4 linked regions of the Homo sapiens genome follow. The protein of the gene in region 3 interacts with the protein of the main gene of each other region in a pairwise test. Each region holds a gene or a part of one and is shown on either strand. Other genes may lie near its edges.

What was found. The genes of interacting proteins can lie anywhere in the genome.
Region 1: the proteins of PICALM (region 3) and TRAF3IP1 interact in a two-hybrid assay, tested with the Homo sapiens proteins (one large-scale study listed by IntAct).
Region 2: the proteins of PICALM (region 3) and EPN1 interact in a two-hybrid assay, tested with the Homo sapiens proteins (one large-scale study listed by IntAct).
Region 4: the proteins of PICALM (region 3) and SNX33 interact in a two-hybrid assay, tested with the Homo sapiens proteins (one large-scale study listed by IntAct).

Annotation. Positions count from the first base shown.
Region 1 is NC_000002.12:238,392,675-238,397,244, reverse strand, and holds part of TRAF3IP1 (TRAF3-interacting protein 1), read right to left. Parts: intron 1-4,570.
Region 2 is NC_000019.10:55,687,883-55,692,452, reverse strand, and holds part of EPN1 (epsin-1), read right to left. Parts: intron 3,584-4,570; coding exon 3,459-3,583; intron 3,157-3,458; coding exon 3,082-3,156; intron 2,587-3,081; coding exon 2,503-2,586; intron 700-2,502; coding exon 396-699; intron 1-395. UniProt on the Homo sapiens protein: Binds to membranes enriched in phosphatidylinositol 4,5-bisphosphate (PtdIns(4,5)P2). Modifies membrane curvature and facilitates the formation of clathrin-coated invaginations. Regulates receptor-mediated endocytosis.
Region 3 is NC_000011.10:85,955,587-85,959,557, forward strand, and holds the end of PICALM (phosphatidylinositol-binding clathrin assembly protein), read right to left. Parts: intron 3,475-3,971; coding exon 3,460-3,474; 3' UTR 1,589-3,459; downstream 1-1,588. UniProt on the Homo sapiens protein: Cytoplasmic adapter protein that plays a critical role in clathrin-mediated endocytosis which is important in processes such as internalization of cell receptors, synaptic transmission or removal of apoptotic cells.
Region 4 is NC_000015.10:75,650,069-75,654,638, reverse strand, and holds part of SNX33 (sorting nexin-33), read right to left. Parts: coding exon 4,066-4,570; intron 1-4,065. UniProt on the Homo sapiens protein: Plays a role in the reorganization of the cytoskeleton, endocytosis and cellular vesicle trafficking via its interactions with membranes, WASL, DNM1 and DNM2. Acts both during interphase and at the end of mitotic cell divisions.

The DNA of each region.
Region 1 (4,570 bases), on a different chromosome or scaffold from region 3:
CCAGGGAGGGGCCGCTCCTTCCCTGCTCAATGGGGATGGGGGTCTGTCTTTACCTGGAAATCCATCTGAGGGCAAATCTCTATACAGGCAGATTTCAGTTCCCAACTAACAAGCAACTTTTGTAGCTATTGTTACAAGAGCTTAGTGACATGGAAGATTTTTCCCAAATGGACTGGCAGAATGAGGGCCTGACCCTACAGCTCTTCAAATGGCCCACCTTCCATCCCAAATGACTTCAAAACCCAGCTTGCCAGGGGGCAAGGGGAAAGAAACCCAAAGGAGAGGCAGAAACTGGTGCCATGGAAAGGAGGGCATGGAGAATGTGCAGGGCAGCCAGCGCCAGCAGCAGCCAGCAGCAGCCAGCAGCACCCAGCAGGCAGATGGTCAGGTCGACTTAGACGTGACTGTGCTGGCCGCTCAGGGAGGCCACAGAGTCCAGGGGTCAGGGGCCAGATGGAAGGGGTCAAGTTGAGACAGCAGCAGGTGAAGGAGGTGAGGAGGACGCAGAGACGAGTGGGGAGCTGCATGCGGTTTGGGCCAGGAGTTCTTGGGTTCTTTGCCATGCAACATTTAGAATTCTCTTCATATGAGCTTTGATCACAGACATCTCTGAATGTCAGAAACTGATGTGAGTTGATAAGAATCAATAAGCTTGGGAAAATTAACATCAGTTCTTTCTCCTTCTTTCCTTTTTTTTTTTAATTTTTTTATTATTATTATACTTTAAGTTTTAGGGTACATGTACACAATGTGCAGGTTTGTTACATATGTATACATGTGCCATGTTGGTGTGCTGCACCCATTAACTCGTCATTTAACATTAGGTATATCTCCTAATGCTATCCCTCCCCCCTCCCCCCACCCCACAACAGGCCCCGGATTGTGATGTTCCCCTTCCTGTGTCCATGTGTTCTCATTGTTCAATTCCCACCTATGAGTGAGAACATGCAGTGTTTGGTTTTTTGTCCTTGCGACAGTTTGCTGAGAATGATGGTTTCTAGTTTCATCCATGTCCCTACAAAGGACATGAACTCATCATTTTTAATGGCTGCATAGTATTCCATGGTGTATATATGCCACATTTTCTTAATCCAGTCTATCGTTGTTGGACATTTGGGTTGGTTCCAAGTCTTTGCTATTGTGAATAGTGCCGCAATAAACATACGTGTGCATGTATCTTTATAGCAGCATGATTTATAATCCTTTGGGTATATACCCAGTAATGGGATGGCTGGGTCAAATGGTATTTCTAGTTCTAGATCCCTGAGGAATCGCCACACTGACTTCCCCAATGGTTGAACTAGTTTACAGTCCCACCAACAGTGTAAAAGTGTTCCTATTTCTCCACATCCTCTCCAGCACCTGTTGTTTCCTGATTTTTTAATGATCGCCATTCTAACTGGTGTGAGATGGTATCTCATTGTGGTTTTGATTTGCATATCTCTGATGGCCAGTGATGATAAGCATTTTTTCATGTGTTTTTTGGCTGCGTAAATGTCTTCTTTTGAGAAGTGTGTGTTCATATCCTTTGCCCACTTTTTGATGGGGTTGTTTTTTTTTTGTAAATTTGTTTGAGTTCATTGTAGATTCTGGATATTAGCCCTTTGTCAGATGAGAAGGTTGCGAAAATTTTCTCTAATTTTGTAGGTTGCCTGTTCACCCTGATGGTAGTTTCTTTTGCTGTGCAGAAGCTCTTTAGTTTAATTAGATCCCATTTGTCAATTTTGGCTTTTGTTGCCATTGCTTTTGGTGTTTTAGACATGAAGTCCTTGCCCATGTCTATGTCCTGAATGGTATTGCCTAGGTTTTCTTCTAGGGTTTTTATGGTTTTAGGTCTAACATGTAGTCTTTAATCCATTTTGAATTGATTTTTGTATAAGGTGTAAGGAAGGGATCCAATTTCAGCTTTCTACATATGGCTAGCCAGTTTTCCCAGCACCATTTATTAAATAGGGAAACATTTCCCCATTGCTTGTTTTTGTCAGGTTTGTCAAAGATCAGATGGTTATCTTCTTCCCTTTCTTTCTTCTCTCTCTCTTTCTTTACAGCCAGGGTCTCACTATGTTGCCCAGGCTACTCTCAAACTCCTGGGCTCAAGTGATCCTCCTGCCTTGCCCTCCCAAAGCGCTGGGATTACAGATGTAAGCCATCATGCCCTGCAACACTGTTTCTTTAGGAAGCCCTCCCTGGACACCCCCCCACCCACTCCAGACCGGTAAGGGGCCCTTCCTTGCCTCACCCACTTACAGAATGAGCTAGTAAATGCACTCAGTTGTAACAAATCAACTTATTTAATTTGAACGTATCATAGCTACATATTCACTTGCATTACTTCTGCTAGTTTCAGACTGTGGGCTCAGGAGGGCAGGACCTTGTGCCTAGATTCACTGTGATTCACATAAGCTCTGCCTAAGAATTTGTGAAATGAACTAATGAAGTGGATAAATGATTTATGTATGAAGATCCTAGTTCCACCATTTACTGGCTTGGACAAGTACAAGAAAGCTTTAGCATAATGCCTGGCACATAGAAAGTGTTAAATAATTGGGACTTTAAGTAAAACGTAAAACTCATACAACTAATAAGTGAGTTCAGCAAGGTTGTAGTATACAAGATGAGCATATGAAAATCAACTATATTTCTATGTATGAGCAATGAAAACATGGACACTGCAATTAAAAATACAATGCCATTGACAATTGTTCAATAGAAGACTATCCTTAGTTGTAAATCTAACAAAACATGTATAGGACTTGGAAATGGAAAACGAAACAATGCAGATGAAAGAAATCAAAGGAAATCTAAATAAATGAGAAGACACACTGTGTCCATGGAATGGAAGACAGGACACAGTAAAGACATGAATTTTCCCCAAACCGATACGCATGTTTAATGCAAATCCTACCAAACTTGCAGCCAATGTTTTTGTATAGACAAGATTATCCTAAAATGTATACAGAAAGGCAAAGGAACTACAATAGCTAAAACATTTTCAGAAAAAGAATAAAGACAGAAATAACCAGTCTACCCAATTTCAAGGCTTTTTTTTGAAACGGAGTCTCACTCTGTCGCCCAGGCTGGAGTGCAGTTGTGTGATCTTGGCTCATTGCAACCTCTGCCTCCCAGATTCAAGCGATTCTCCTGCCTCGGCCTCCCAAGTAGCTGGGATCACAGGCGCACACCAGCATGCCCAGCTAATTTTTGTTTTAGTAGACATGGGATTTCACCATGTTGGCCAGGTTGGTGTCAAACTCCTGAGCTAAGGTGATCCTCCCATCTCGGCCTCCCAAAGTGCTGGGATTACAGGTGTGAGCCACCGCGTAGGCTTCAAGTCTTTTTATACAATTACAGTAATCAAGACAGTGCAGTATTGACAGAGGGACATAGATCAAATGAACAGAACACAGAATCCAAAAGTAGATCCATACGAATATGTCCATATGCCCAAGCAATCTTTGACAAAGGTACAAAAGCAATTTAGTGGCAGAGAGAGCTTTGCACCATTTGGCACTGGGTTAAGTGGACATCCATAAGCCAAAAAACAAACAAAACGTTGACCTAATCTCATATCTTAAACAAAAATTAACTCGAAATGGACTATGGATTTAAATATAATCTATAAAACTTTAAGATAAAAAACACAGGAGGAAAAAGTCTTTGGGATCTAGGACTAGGCAAAGAGTTCGAAGACTTGACACCAAAAGCATGACAAAAATTTCAAATGTTTGCTCTGCGAAAGACCCTGGGAAGAAGCCGCAAAGGTAAGTCACAGAATGAGCAAAAACAACTGCAAATCACACATCCAATAAAGGACTTATAGCTAGAATATGCAAAGAACTCTTAAAACACAACAGCAAGAAAGCAAATAATTCAATTAGAAAATGGGCAAAAGACACATTTCACTGAAGAAGATATAAGGATGGCCAACACACACATGAAAATATGTTTGAAATCATTAGGCATTAGGGAAATGCGAATTCAAACCACAATGAGCCATCACCACACAACAATCAGAATGGCTAAAATAAAAAATAGTGACAACACCAAATGCTGGTTAGGGAAAACTGGATCACTCATTGCTGACAGGAATGTAAAAAGATATGGCCACTCTGGAACACAGTTTGGCAGTTTCCTATAAAACTAAACATGCAACTACAGTATCAACCAACAGTTGTACTCCTGGACACTTATCCAAACAAATGAAAATTCATGTTTATAGAAAAACCTGTATACAAATGCATGCGGATGCTTTAATCAAAGTAGCCACAAACTGGAAACAACCCCCGTGTCCTTCGATAGGTAATTGGTTAACTAAACTGTGGTGCATCCACACCAGGGAAAACTATCTACCAATAAAAAGGAACAGACTGGCCAGGCATGGTGGCTCATGCCTGCAATCCCAGCACTTTGGGAGGCTGAGGCAGGCAGATCACCTGAGGTCAGGAGTTCGAGACCAGCCTGACCAACATGGCAAAACCCCATCTATACTAAAAATACAAAGTTAGCTGGGCGCGGTGGCGCATGCCTGTAATCCCAGCTACTCGGGAGGCTGAGGCAGAAGAATCCCTTG
Region 2 (4,570 bases), on a different chromosome or scaffold from region 3:
CTGCCCAGCCCTCCCTCAGCTCCCACGGCTCGGCCACCCCTCCCCTGTCCAGCTGGGTGTCAGGCCCCTTCTCCACCTGCACCTCCCAGCTCCACCCACCGCCCTCCCCAGATGCCTACGTCACACACGCTCTGCCTTGGCCAGAGCCTCTCTGCCCCTCGGCTGAGCTGCCATCCCCTCCCCACAGCACACCCCCCATGTCCTCCAAGGCACAATCTCACACACCCTGTGCTGGGCTCTCATCTGACCCCCGCCCTTGCCCCCTCCCCTGCACCCAGGACGCCCCACCACTGCCCGGCGCCACTGGCTCGATCTGTCCCTGTCCAAGGGCACAGTCAACCAAAGACAGGTGCACACAGGCGTAGGGGCTGCATGCAAGTGGGCCACGCACTCACCATCGGAACTTCCCCATGGATCAGGCGTGGGCCCCTCCCCAGCTGCAGGGGCTGGGGTCCCACCCCAAGGGTCAACTGAGGGTCCTGCAGGGGCAGCAGGCCTCCAGGGGTCCCCAGAGGCCGGCGTGGGGGCTGGACCTCCCCAGGGATCAGCAGCTGGAGGGACAGGGGGGCCGCCCCAGGGGTCCGAGGTGGGGGCAGCCGTGGGGACGGCAGCAGCCATGGGTGCTGGGCCCCCCCAGGGGTCTGTGGTCGGGGCAGGAGCTGGGGCCGTGAAGACGTCAGCAAGGTCCATGAGGGACGACTGTGGGGGAGAGAGAAGAGAAGGAGCATGAAGAAGTGGTGGGAAGCCTGGGACAGGGACCAAGCTGGGGCCCGTGGCGGGGGAGGCGGCCAGGCCCTGGGTGTCCAGACAGCAGCCATCCATAAGGGGTGAGAGGGAGGCAGGCCCCAAACACACCACCTGGCCTCCCTCCTCATCCGTCATGGGGTCGGCCCACCCCTGCCCACCTACCCCACCCGAGGGTACCACCAGGGAGCCCCAACACAGCCCCACTCCTGCCCCACATCCATTCTCCACACTGCAGCAGGGCAGCCCCTTAACTCCACCTGCTCCCAGGTCCTTGCCCGGCCCTGACTGAGGATGGAGGCCAAGCCCTCCCCTCGCTCGACCCGAAGCAGCTCGATCCTCCCTCTGCCCACCGTGCCTTCTCCAGCCAGACTGGCCAGCCCCTGCTCCATGCCTTCCCCTGGGAAGCCCCCCATGAACCCACTCAGGTCAACCTGAGCACCCCTCACGATGCCCCCTACGTTGCCCCGCCGTCACCCCGCAGTCATCGCGCTGCAGGCCTTCCCACGCCCATTGCCCCACTGTCACCCCGCAGTCATCGCACTGCAGGTCTTCCCATGCCGCACGCACACGCATGCATGGTCCTGTGTTCTGGAAGTGGGCACACGACGGGCCCAGCTAACCAGAGCCCGTCTCAGAACGTGCAGATGCCCCCAACATACTCATGCACACATCTCCAGTCAGCACCCGTGAGGCAAAGGCCCCGGCGGGGATGGGAAGGGGAGAAGAGCTGAGTCCAGGGCAGGGCAGGAGAAGAGATGGGTGAGATCTGGTGCTCCCCCAGCAGGGCAGCCCTTACTCGGGTCACTGGGCTGTGGTGGACACTGATAGAGACCCCCTGGCCGAGGCCAACCTAAAGAGGCTTTCCGTCTACCAAGAAAGTCCCACTGTGCCTGATCACTTATGGCCACAAGCTGTCTGCCGCCTCCCATGGAGAGGAGGCCTTGTCCCCACCCCTCAAACTTGGGCTGGCCTCAGGACCTGCTGAGACCAATAGCAGTGCACAGGCTGACGAGGCAACTCCAACCCAGCCCGACGAGCTTGTCCTGGGGGGCGGCAGCAGCAGCAGCTACTGTGCTATGAGGACACTCAGGACAGACTAGTAACCAGGGAGAGGCCAGGGGAGGAGGCTGGAGGGCAAGGCCAGTGCGGACACCCCGGGCCCAGAGGCATGAGTGACCTCAGCCATGACACGAAACAACCAGCCAGCGGGCCCGTCACAGGGAAGTACTGAAGCGTGACCTGGAAGCACAAGGTTGTGGGAGGGTTTGCTACTCAGCTGCAGAGCATGGGGACGCCACAGAAACAGTGTTCGCGAGGGCGGGACCATGCCTCCTCGCTCACCAACAGGCCCTGGGTGTGCAGCACACGGCCTGGCACCAAGGAGGTGCCCGACAAAGTGTGACAGATGGGGCGAGCCCTGCACCCTCCTCCCTGTGGCCATGCCAGGCTGTTGGCCTATTCTGGGCCTCCCCATTCAGCTGTGGCGGCCGGTGGTGGCCCTCACGGTGCTCAGCCCGAAGGGGGATGGCCAGCGCTGACCACAGGAGGTGGCCGCAGGGCAGCCTGGTCAGTCACCGGCCTCAGCCCAGCAGGGAGGGAGAGGCACAGAGAGGCCGACCAAGCCTGGAAACCCGGTGCCCAGCTCCAGGACCTTGTGTTTCAGTCTCTGCTCCAGGGACCTGGCCACGCAGGAATGAGCGATGGGACGGACGGACACCTGCAGGGGCCAGGGAGGGCAGAACAAGCCCCGCTCACCTCCTCCTTGCCCCCAGTCTCCCTCTTGCTCTCCTCGATTGCCATCTGCAGCCGCAGGTCATCCCCGCGACGGATCCGCTCCTCCTGTTGGGGCACGGGCACGACCAGGGAGACATGAGAACGTGAGCCACGGGCAGATGCCACCTCAGCCTGGAAGCCCCAGCAACCCCTCCCACCCCAACGAAAGCGGCTGAAGGATTCGATGGGATGCGGACAATGTATGAAATGGGGATGGGGCACCTGGGTCAAAGGTCAGGCGGGACAGGGGATAAGGGGAGTGGGGTGCTGTGCTGGCGCACCCGGGGAGGACGGGCACCCGCCTCGGTGGTATCTCCTGCGTTGGGGGGAGGAAGGGACCCTGGTCACCCGAGCAACCTTGGCACAGCTGTGCTGGCCACCACCCAGGCTCTGTCTGACTTGTGGTCCTACATCCTACGGCTGAAGGTACTGAGGTTTCAACACGCGTGAGCCTGTGGGCTTCGGGCCCAGCAGGATGGTGGGGGGTGACTTAGGAAGGGGCGACGGGGCTGGTCTGAGGGGAGCCCCTGGCAGGGGCAGGGACAGGGAGGCTGCTCTGACCTTATCATGCTCTTCTCGGCTCAAACTAAGGGCCAGCTGGAGCTGGGCGTCGTCCTCGGGGCCGCAGGACGGGGGCTGGGGGAGAGAGAGTGTGAGGGGCATGACGGGAGGGGCCAGAGGCAGAGTCAGAGGCAGAGCCAGGGTCAGATAGAGCCGAAGAAAGAGAGGGCTGGGGGTCCCTGAACCAGTGAGGGACAGGCAGAGAGTGACACGCAGAGGGACGGCGGGGTGAGGATGAGGCAGGACTGGGGAGGAGACGAGTGACAGCATGTGGAGCAGCGACAGTGAGGGCCAGGCCCACGCCTGGCTGGGAGGGAGCCTGAAGTGAGGCGTGGAGGCGGGTGGCGGACAGACAGCCCCAGCTGCACGCCCAGTACCTGGTCGGCCTCCTCCTTGCTCATGGCCAGGGCCAGCTGGAGCTGCAGCTCCTCCTCCCCGCTGCTCTGCGGCCACGCCTGCTCCGCCTCGGGAGGGGGGCCTGAGCCCACAGCTGCTGATGAGGCTGGAGGGCGGGTGAGAAACGCGTGAGACCCAGACCAGGGAACGAGAGACAGGAAACCCCATAGCCTAGACAGACGGGGGCTTCTGTGTCCAACCCCACCCCCCAAGTCCCCCACCCTACAACCTCTGCAGGCCAAGACTAGGACTGAGAGGCGGAGACCAGACGCCAGGTGCTCAGAGGAGGAAGGGTGGGGATGCAGGCAGCCCCACCCACGGGAGGGGCCAGGCATCAGGGAAGGACCAGAGCAAAAGTCAGTCTGATAAGCAGGTGGGGAACCCCAGCAACCTCTGAGCCCTGCCACCACCAGGACTCTCCGCGTGCCTGGGGTCTGTCCCTGGGCCCCTGGGGGATGGGAGGTCCTTCCTCCCAGGTTTCCCAGGCCTGTTTCCAGGGCTTGTTGAGAATGGTAGCTCTGGCAGGGAACAACTGGAATTCAGAGGGGAGAACAGCATCCATTGAGACAGCGGGATCCAAGGCCTAGTCGGGGTTAGGGAGTGGGCTAGCGAGGAGCCCTTGGTTCCAAGAGCAGGAGGGGAAGGGAGAGAGAGGACACAGGAAGGCAGGGCCGGACCCTCCAGGAGGCTGCTGAGATATCCCCGGCCTCCACTGCAGCATCCTCTCAGCAACCCCGCCTACCCTCAAACTCTGTCCTGACACTGTTCTCTCCACCCCCAAGGCCTGTGGACCCTTGCCCCCCTCCACAGTGCAGAGGACAGGCTCCAACCAGGCCCTAGGCCCGCCGAGCACAGGGCCATTGCCCCAGCCTCCAAAGCCCCAGGGCGGACCCTGCCTCTCCTGCCCCGCCCTCCCAACCACTGTGCACTGGTCAGCAAGTTCTGTCTGCTCCAGCTCCAAGACGCCGCCTTGCACCTGTGTCCTGTACTTGTGTCCCCACCCAACCCACTCCCCAGGCCCAGGCCTCTCCCTGACGAGCAGGCCCTGGCTCCCCTTGCCCGGAGCCGCAGCAGGCAGCTGTCTGGCGGCCCC
Region 3 (3,971 bases):
GATACTTCAAATAGGACATTACTTCTTAGTAACAGCAAGAAATCAGCTTAATGTTTTCAGCAAGAGACAGCATGGATGATAATGCAGCCTTTCTTTTCCGAAACTTCAGACAGCAGAATTCCAGAAGGGCTAGTCACACCCATGGAAGGCAGCAAGTGTGGCAGAACAAAGATCTAAGCTGACTGCAGAGGCCACTGATGAAAGCTGTGAAATATCTTTCCTGGAAGGCAAGAATAAATTCATCTGGCTTACTACTGTGGTGTCTCCATACATTGTGACCTAGTCACTGCTAGCACACAGGAGCCACACTCACTCTTAAGAGAGATTTTTTTTCTCTGTGGAATTTTGTAGAATAAGCAAACAGAGTTTGGAAGCGTGTTTGTGAGTTACGATAAATGAGAAGAACCTTGAAATTATTTTTAGTTCAAGAAAAACATCCCATTAAGGCCTATTTCTCATAAGTCACATTTTGTTGGCTTCTGGAAAAGCAGAAGATTCCTAGGCTAACATAAGGAAGTCCTCTTCCTAAATATGTATTCTCATAGTCACTTGTTAAGAAAGGGATACCTTTTAAAAAATGCTGAATGCTGATAGATGTTAAATCAAAGGCAAATAATTTTGAAAACGATTTGGGACAGGTACAGTTGTCCTCTGCTTACAATCTTCTCTCTTATCTCAGCCAATAGCTACTTGCTAACTGGATAGTAAAATGACATGAGCATGTATGAGTTTACAGCCTGATGTAATTATGTAATCAATAGCTGATTTACTTCACTCATTATATTTTGGTTAAAGTTGCTCTTGTCGCATGTTTGCATTCTTCCTTGTCAACGATGTCTGGGCATCAGAGGAGGAGGCAGGAAATGTACTTCACTAAAGACCACTGGGAATAAAGAGTGGCCATCAGTCTAGATTGCAGAGGGAAACAATCTCCATGTCAGTATATATATATGAATTACGTGACAGCAGGTCACAGAGAGAACAATGGACCATGAAAGCAAAGATTTGATTTCCATCTGTTAACTTACTCATCTGGGCAAGTTCCTTTTTTTTTTAAACAGGGTCTCACTCTGTCACCCAGGGTGGAGTATGCAGTGGCATGATCCCAGCTCACTGCAGCCTCAACATCCTGGACTCGGGTGATCCTACCACTTCAGTCTCCCAAGTAGCTGGGACTATAGGCATATACCTGGCTAATTTTTGTATTTTTGGTACAGATAGCGTTTCACCATGTTGCCCAGGCTGGTCTTGAACTCCTGGGCTCAAGTGATCATGTACCTCAGCCTCCCAAATTACTGGAATAACAGGTGTGAGCCACTGCACCCAGCTCCTTTTCTGATTTCTGATTCCTACATATAAAATGGGTAAAATATGGATAACACTTATCAAACATAGCCCAAAAGTTGTTTAAACAATGAAATAAAAATGGCTATGAAGCACGTCACATACTGAAACATACTTAAAAAAAAAAAGGCAATATGAAAGAAAACAAGCCACAGACCTTAAATATAAACACCTCCTCAAACACCACAAGAGACAAAAATTTGTAAAGTTAAGGAGGGTAACTTATAAAAGTACAACTTCCCAGTTTATATGAAAATGGTTTAATAATACTGAAACTTAAAAGCTGATAAAATTTATTGGCTACGACTACATTTTTTCTCCAATCACAGCAAATATTATGAGACACTTATCAATGCAAAGCTTTTGATCCTTTATCATGTACTCTGAACCCTATGCACTACTAAATAGGCAATATGATACAATCAAAGGTTTCTTTGGCAGACATAATTATATGTACCAAAACATTAAACTGCGTATTTTCCCTTAAACTTACCTGACTAAAGGCATCTGATCAAAAGACAAAAAGTGAACAATTTTAATAAGTAGTTGCATTTATCAATAAGAGTCTACAAGGTAACAAAAAGTGTAAAGAGACATCTTTTTGAAAATTCATATAAAACAAACCTTCCATGTTATTAGATCAACAAATATAATCACCTGGGTATATTTTATTAGGGAAAAATGACAATATTGATAATAAAAAGAGAAAGGAAAAATGAAAATGCATCTCAGACCAGAATACCATAACAAAACTTTTGTGGAAGCTGCATTTTATTTGAAAATCCACCCATTTTGCTAACATACATTTTAATATTGTAAACAAAAATAGAATCTGCAGAGACAATGCAACAAGAATGCTTAAACTCATGTACAGAATTGCTTTCCTACAATGAACTGTCCTTCTTAAGGCCCCTCTCCACCCAAATGTTAAAGATGTATTTACACAAAGCACCGATCAACAGTGCAGTTTAATTCTTCGTTTACTAAACTCTTGGCTAGACATTAACTTTAAAGATACTATTTCCCCTTATTTAAAAGGTATATGATCATAACATGGCACGAGCCAAAGAAAATGTTCAAGGACTTTGCCCCCCTTCCCTCCCCCTTGTAACACCTTCTAGAGTTTTAGTGAAAAGAAGGAAAGTCTTGAAGTGAAAGCAATTCCTCACATTCATTTTGGAAAGGCCCTAATGTCAAATGGAAAATAATGACATGCCAAGCACAAAGCAGTAAAGATCCTTCCCAATGCACTAATGCTGAATTTAAAATGTAGTGCTTTTCCTAGTCAGTGAACTGTTCCCTGGCAAAATCCTAGGCACAGAATTGACTATAAGGATTAATGCATTTATAATGCTTCCCTAAATCCCACAGAGGCCGAGAATTCTTAAGAGATTCAGACCTATGGACTTGCCTTAAAATATTTAGTGCTCTGTATGTCAGCTGAGAAAAGCATTCTGAATCAGATTCATTCTTGTGGATAAAAATCAAACATACTGTGCACATCCATACTCATTTTCATAAGGAGGTCTGATACAATATTAATGTTATGTAAAATTGATAATCATAAATAAATACAAATACTTAAGGAATGTCTACTGCAAACTGAATATAATTTTTTTTAAAAAAAGAAAAGTTAATTTCAGTTATTGTTTCTGTATTTGTGAGGACTGGAGAAAAGAAAGATAATGCATAATTAGGAATTTTAATTTTGATCCCCCAAAAGAGTCCTGTTGAAATACAGTAAAGGACACAGTTCTTCTCTCCAGGCAGCTTTTCCAAATACAAATTTCACACTTTCCAAATAAGGGCTTTTCTTGATAGGTTACTGATTATGGGTATTAACAGGAGTTGAAAGAATTGAAGGGTTAGTCACCAAAAAGACAGATCTTAGTCTTAAATCATAGCAATTCTTGGCTTTATAAACTGTATTGATACGTTCTCCTATAAACTAGTCCCAATTTCCTTCATGGGCCTTCACTGAGTTACTTGTAGCATTCTAATGGAAGAAGAGAGTTTAAGAGATTTAAGAGACAGCAGTTTGGATTTTGCTGGAAGTAAGGATTTTGCTGCTTGAGCACTTGTCTTTTTGGAGTAATTCCATTTTCTTCCATCAAGTTACATAAACTGTATCTGGAAAAAAAAAGTGGGTATGTTAATTCATTGTATTGTAGGATGTCTTCTCATAAATAAAAATGCTTTGTGGTCTTTACCATTTAACTGGCCCAGAAGTGTTCACAACATGCTTATCACAAACCCTGTTTATAAAACAAAGTCAGTATTATCAACTTATGTGCCAGAAAGCTCAATATTTGACACATATAGGGACTTCCAAATAATGTTTTTTGTTGTTGTTTTTGAGACAGAGTCTTGCTCTGCTGTCTAGGCTGGATTGCAGTGGCATGATCAAAGCTCAATGGCTGGGCACCATAGCTCACACCTGTAATCCCAGCACTCTGGGAGGCTGAGGTGGGCAGATCACCTGAGGTGAGTTCGAGAGTTCGAGACTGGCCTGGCCAATATGGTGAAACCCCGTCTCTACTAAAAATACAAAAATTAGCCAGGCGTGGTGGCGGGCGCCTGTAATCCTAGCTACTCGGGAGGCTGAGGCAGGAGAATGGCTTGAACCC
Region 4 (4,570 bases), on a different chromosome or scaffold from region 3:
CATTCTACTTAAGACTTAACCTGAGAGCTGAGGACCCAGGGGGACCTCCTGCCTCAGCACTCCTCTTACAGGCTGGGTCCCAAAAATGCAGAAAGGAGGGTTGGAGCCCACCAGCTGCAAGTCCCAGGGATATTCCCTAAGCTCCCACCTCAATCCATCTTGCCCCTGCCTCTTGGAGACAGTTAACATCCACCCCAGGTTGGGGGCAGGAGGGAGCAGGAGGTCTGAGTCCTAGTCCTAGCTGTATCCTCTCCAGCAAGCCACTGCTCTTGCCTGGGCTCCAGGTCTCCCCACTGCCCAGTGGGACAGGTTGCACTAGATGTGATGCTGTTGACAACCTCTCACACGGTATAGTGCTTTAAGGAGTTTCCACATCTGTAAAATGGGATAATAATAGTACCTGCCCTATAGTATAGTTGAGGCTTAACTGAACTAATATGTACACAGTTCAAAGGAGCGCACCTGAGATACAATAGAAGCTCCAGATGCTACATGTTATGGCTTGAAAACTGCTTTTCTTTTCTTTTTTTTTTTTTTTTTTAATTTGAGATGGAGTCTTGTTCTGCTGCCCAAGCTGGAGTGCAGTGGCTTGATCTCGGCTCACTGCAACCTCCGCCTGCTGGGTTCAAGCAATTCTTCTGCCTCAGCCTTCCAAGTAGCTGGGATTACAGGCACCTGCCACCATGCCTGGCTATTTTTTTGTATTTTTAGTAGAGACAGGGTTTCACTATGTTAGCCAGGCTGGTGTCGAACTCCTGTGATCCGCCCACTTCGGCCTCCCAAAGTGCTGAGATTACAGGATGAGCGGTAGAGGGAAGGCTAGATGATGGCTCAGAACCCAGAGGCTGAACCCACCCATCCCCCAGGCAAGAACTTGTCCCTACAGTCGCCACTTTGCCTTGGCCACGCTGTCCCTATGGCCCCTCCATGGAAGCTCTGTGGTCCTGGGCCTCTCTCTAGCCCACAGGACCAGTGAAGGAGCACCCAAGCCTTCCTCCCTCCTCTTTCGCCTTCTGGCTCAGCTCTCCATCCCTGGGGATCCCCTCCCCCATCTGGGAGGGCACAGTGGAAACAGCCTGGGCTGCGGAGCCAGACACACTGGACTCCAGCTCCTGCTCTGAGGCTCATCTGCATCGCTGCACCTCGTCTGTAAAACGGAAGTGACCACATCGCCCTCCTGACCTGTCGTGAGCCTTAGGACCAGCCCCGCTCTTGCTGGCTGTCAAGTTGGGGGTCCATACGTCCCAGCTTGCCCTGGACAGTTACTTTCCCCTGTTGTCCCGGGATCACTATTGCTAGGGCCCCCTTTTATGCCCCAAACTGCCCTGGTTAATTATATGGTTACCCTTCTCTTAGGAGACCCCTGGATTGGGCTACAGGGACTAGGCCCGTGGGAGGACCAGGCTCCTCTCAGCTCCAGCCAGGGTTTATGTCCCATTTTATTTCATTTTATTATTTTTCTGAAAAGCATACAAATTTGTTTAATGTAAGTTTCACATGACATGGAGCCCTCCTAAGGAAATGAAGACCCTCGGGTCCCATTTTACTCACCTAGAGACTGAGGGGAGAAATCTCTCCCAAAGTCATGTCAGATGCAAAGTTTGTCCAAATCCTGGTCTCCTGACTCCCACCTAGGCCTCCACTGTCCTTCCTCCCACACACTCACCACCCATTCAGATGTCCAGACAGGCTGGACAGAATCCTGGGGGCCCAGGACCCAACTGTTCTTCTCTTTTCTTTGAGAAGGGCTCCACCCCTAAGGCCAGCATTAGGACCCCCTCCTTATCACTCCCATTGGGCTGTGGTCCCCAAAGCCTGTCCAGTTCTGTCTCAGTACCCCCTCCCTAACTTGCCCCACACCACAGGCCTGGGAGGAGCAGTGCAGAGCCCAGAACTTAGAGTAAGCCAGAGAGGGCTTGGCCCATTGGGAGGGGTCCTCCCGGGGAGGGAAGGCAGTGGGCTGGCCTCTGTTTCAGGTCAAATGCACCAGCACAGAGGACAGTGGCCTCTGACTCTTAGAAACACCTCAAGTAGAAACTCAGAAATGGCCTATCTCAGCTCTGTCTCTCTGCCCAGGGTCAGAAAGGCTGGTCTGGCTTCCCCCCAGCCTGGGAGGCCCTGGTGTCCTTCCTAGGTGTGGGGCTGCCCTAATGTCCTCAGCTCTGCTCTGGGTGGGGGGTCCCCAGCCACTGCATGGGAGCATCTGTTTAATCATTGCATTCCCCCTCCTGCTGCCTGCACAGGAACAAGCCATCTAAGGAGCTGGTTGAACCAGCCTTCCCACTTGTGCTCAGGGAGACACCTGCCCCAGTGGGCCCCCAGCAGGCCTGGCCACCTCCCCTGCCCTACTCCTGCCCCAGTGCTCAGAGCCAGAGCTAAGGTGTCATTCTGTTTCTGAGCCATACCCTCCCCAGGAGTCCCTTCCCACCCACTCCCTTGAAGGCCTGATGGCTCACTGGGACCCCATTCCCTTGTTTTACAGATCAGGAAACTAAGGCCCAGAGGGGCAAAGGCACTCCCCGGGGACGCACAGCAATCTAGGGGCAGAGCCAAGACTAGCACTCAGGTTTGTGTTTCCTGGAGTTCAGAGGAGGAGGAAGAAAGGTAGAGATGAGAGAAAAAAAAAAAAAAACAGAAAGAAAGGAAGAGGAAGAGGATATAGCAAGGGGAGAAAGGAGGCTGGGAGCTGGAGAAGTTATAGAAGTCAACCTCTTGGTAAAGGAAAGCAAGGCCAGCTTACCCCAGGCCCTCCCTGGTGGTGGTGGGTGACATGTTTCCTGTTCCCCAGGCTCAGTGCAGAGGTCTGCCCCCTGGCCCCACCCAGAGTCAAACTCCCCACCAAGCCAGGTCTAACCTCAGGGCCCAAGGGCCAGGGAGCCAGCTCCACGCCCTGCAGACGAGTTACCAAGCAGCCCCAGGGAGGATCACACCTCTCTCCTGACATCTGCCCTCCCAGCTGTGCCCAGGACTCAGGCACCTGCTGGGGCAGCCACTGGCTCTCTCCTCAGGCAAGAAGAGAAGCCAGGCTTGGGAAGCAGGAGTTGGATAGGCCATGTGGACAGTGCCCTGGACCCCTGATTCTGCACCCCTGGCCCAGCCAGAGTGCCCCTGTGTGACCCAGGATGAGTCATTTCCCCGGCAGTTCATGGACAGCCCCAGCAGTAACAGGCAGAGGCCCATCCTGTCCCTCCCCCACAGAGGGGGTCATGAGAACTGAAAACATGGCTAGGCTTGGGAAGTGGCCAACATGGACGTGTCCTTGGGGAGGTGGCAGGAGGAAGGGACAGTCCCAGCCGGGCCACAGGCTGTGCAACCACTCTTCTGTGGACACTAGCTCCTTCATCTGCAAAATGGGGACAGGGATCTTCCTGCACACAGACAAGACGCTCATAAAGAGAATACACAGTGGTGAGAGTAGCTTCCAAAGCTGCAAAGGTGGGGAGGTTAACTTGCAAGGAGCACAAGACAGGCCCCCACTCTGAGCTCTTGTTATCTGGGTTGGGTCTGTGTCTCCCAAGGGCCTACCGGCTCCTCAAGGGCAAGGCCTGGGGCCTGGTCATCTATGTGTTCTCAGAACCCAGCATGACACCATGCATGATGGGTAAACGAGATGCAAACAGAGAAAATGAATGAACTGACAAGAAGGTAAATATCAAGCTCCATGAGGACAGAGACCGGGCCTGTGCACAACAATATCCCTGCACCTAGAAGCACATTTGCCACAGACACAGAGTTGATATTCAACACATTTGTTTGTTTGTTTGTTTGTTTGTTTGTTTTAGAGACAGGGTCTCACTCTGTCACCCAGGCTGGAGTGCAGTGGCACAATCGGGCTCACTGTAGTCTCAACCTCCTGGGCCCAAGTGATCCTCCTACTTCAACCTCCCAAAGTGCTGAGATTACAAGCGTAAGCCACCGTGCCCAGCCCAACACATTTGTTAAATGAATGATTGAGACAGAGAAATAAAGACAAGTTGCTCCATTCTATCCAGGCCATCCCCATCTCCCCAGGGCCCAGCAGAGAGCCAGACTCAGGACGAGTTTCCTGCCTGCACTGGGCCTTACCTTTTTGTAGATGGATGATGTCAGGGAAGTTGGAGAGCAGGCCCTGGTAGAGAGACAGTGTGTCCAGCATCTGGAAGAGGTCATTCTTGGGCTGCTCAGCAAACATCTCCCCGATGGCTTCATAGGTACGGCCCGTGTGAGAAATGGCACTGTTGAGGGCCTCAGAGCAAAAGGGGGGGTCCATCTGGAAGGAATGACTGATGGCCTGGAAGGCACTGCCCAGCTTCTGGAATTCCTTGCGGAAGCCCCCCACATGTTTACGCACCAGCTCTGATGCCACAGTGCTGAGCTGCAGGACGCTGTCGTCCATCTTCTTACTGAAGGCCTTGAAAGTGTCCACGCGATCTTCCACGTCCTGCAAGTCCTGGTGCTCGGTGGGGATCTGGAAGGTGAGCAGGAAGCTGGCACCCACCATCTCATCCTTCTCCGCCCGGCGTTTGCCCATCTTCCACTGCTTGTCATCCAGGCAGCTGAGGAAATGCTGGAAGCCTTCGTACTGGGAGAG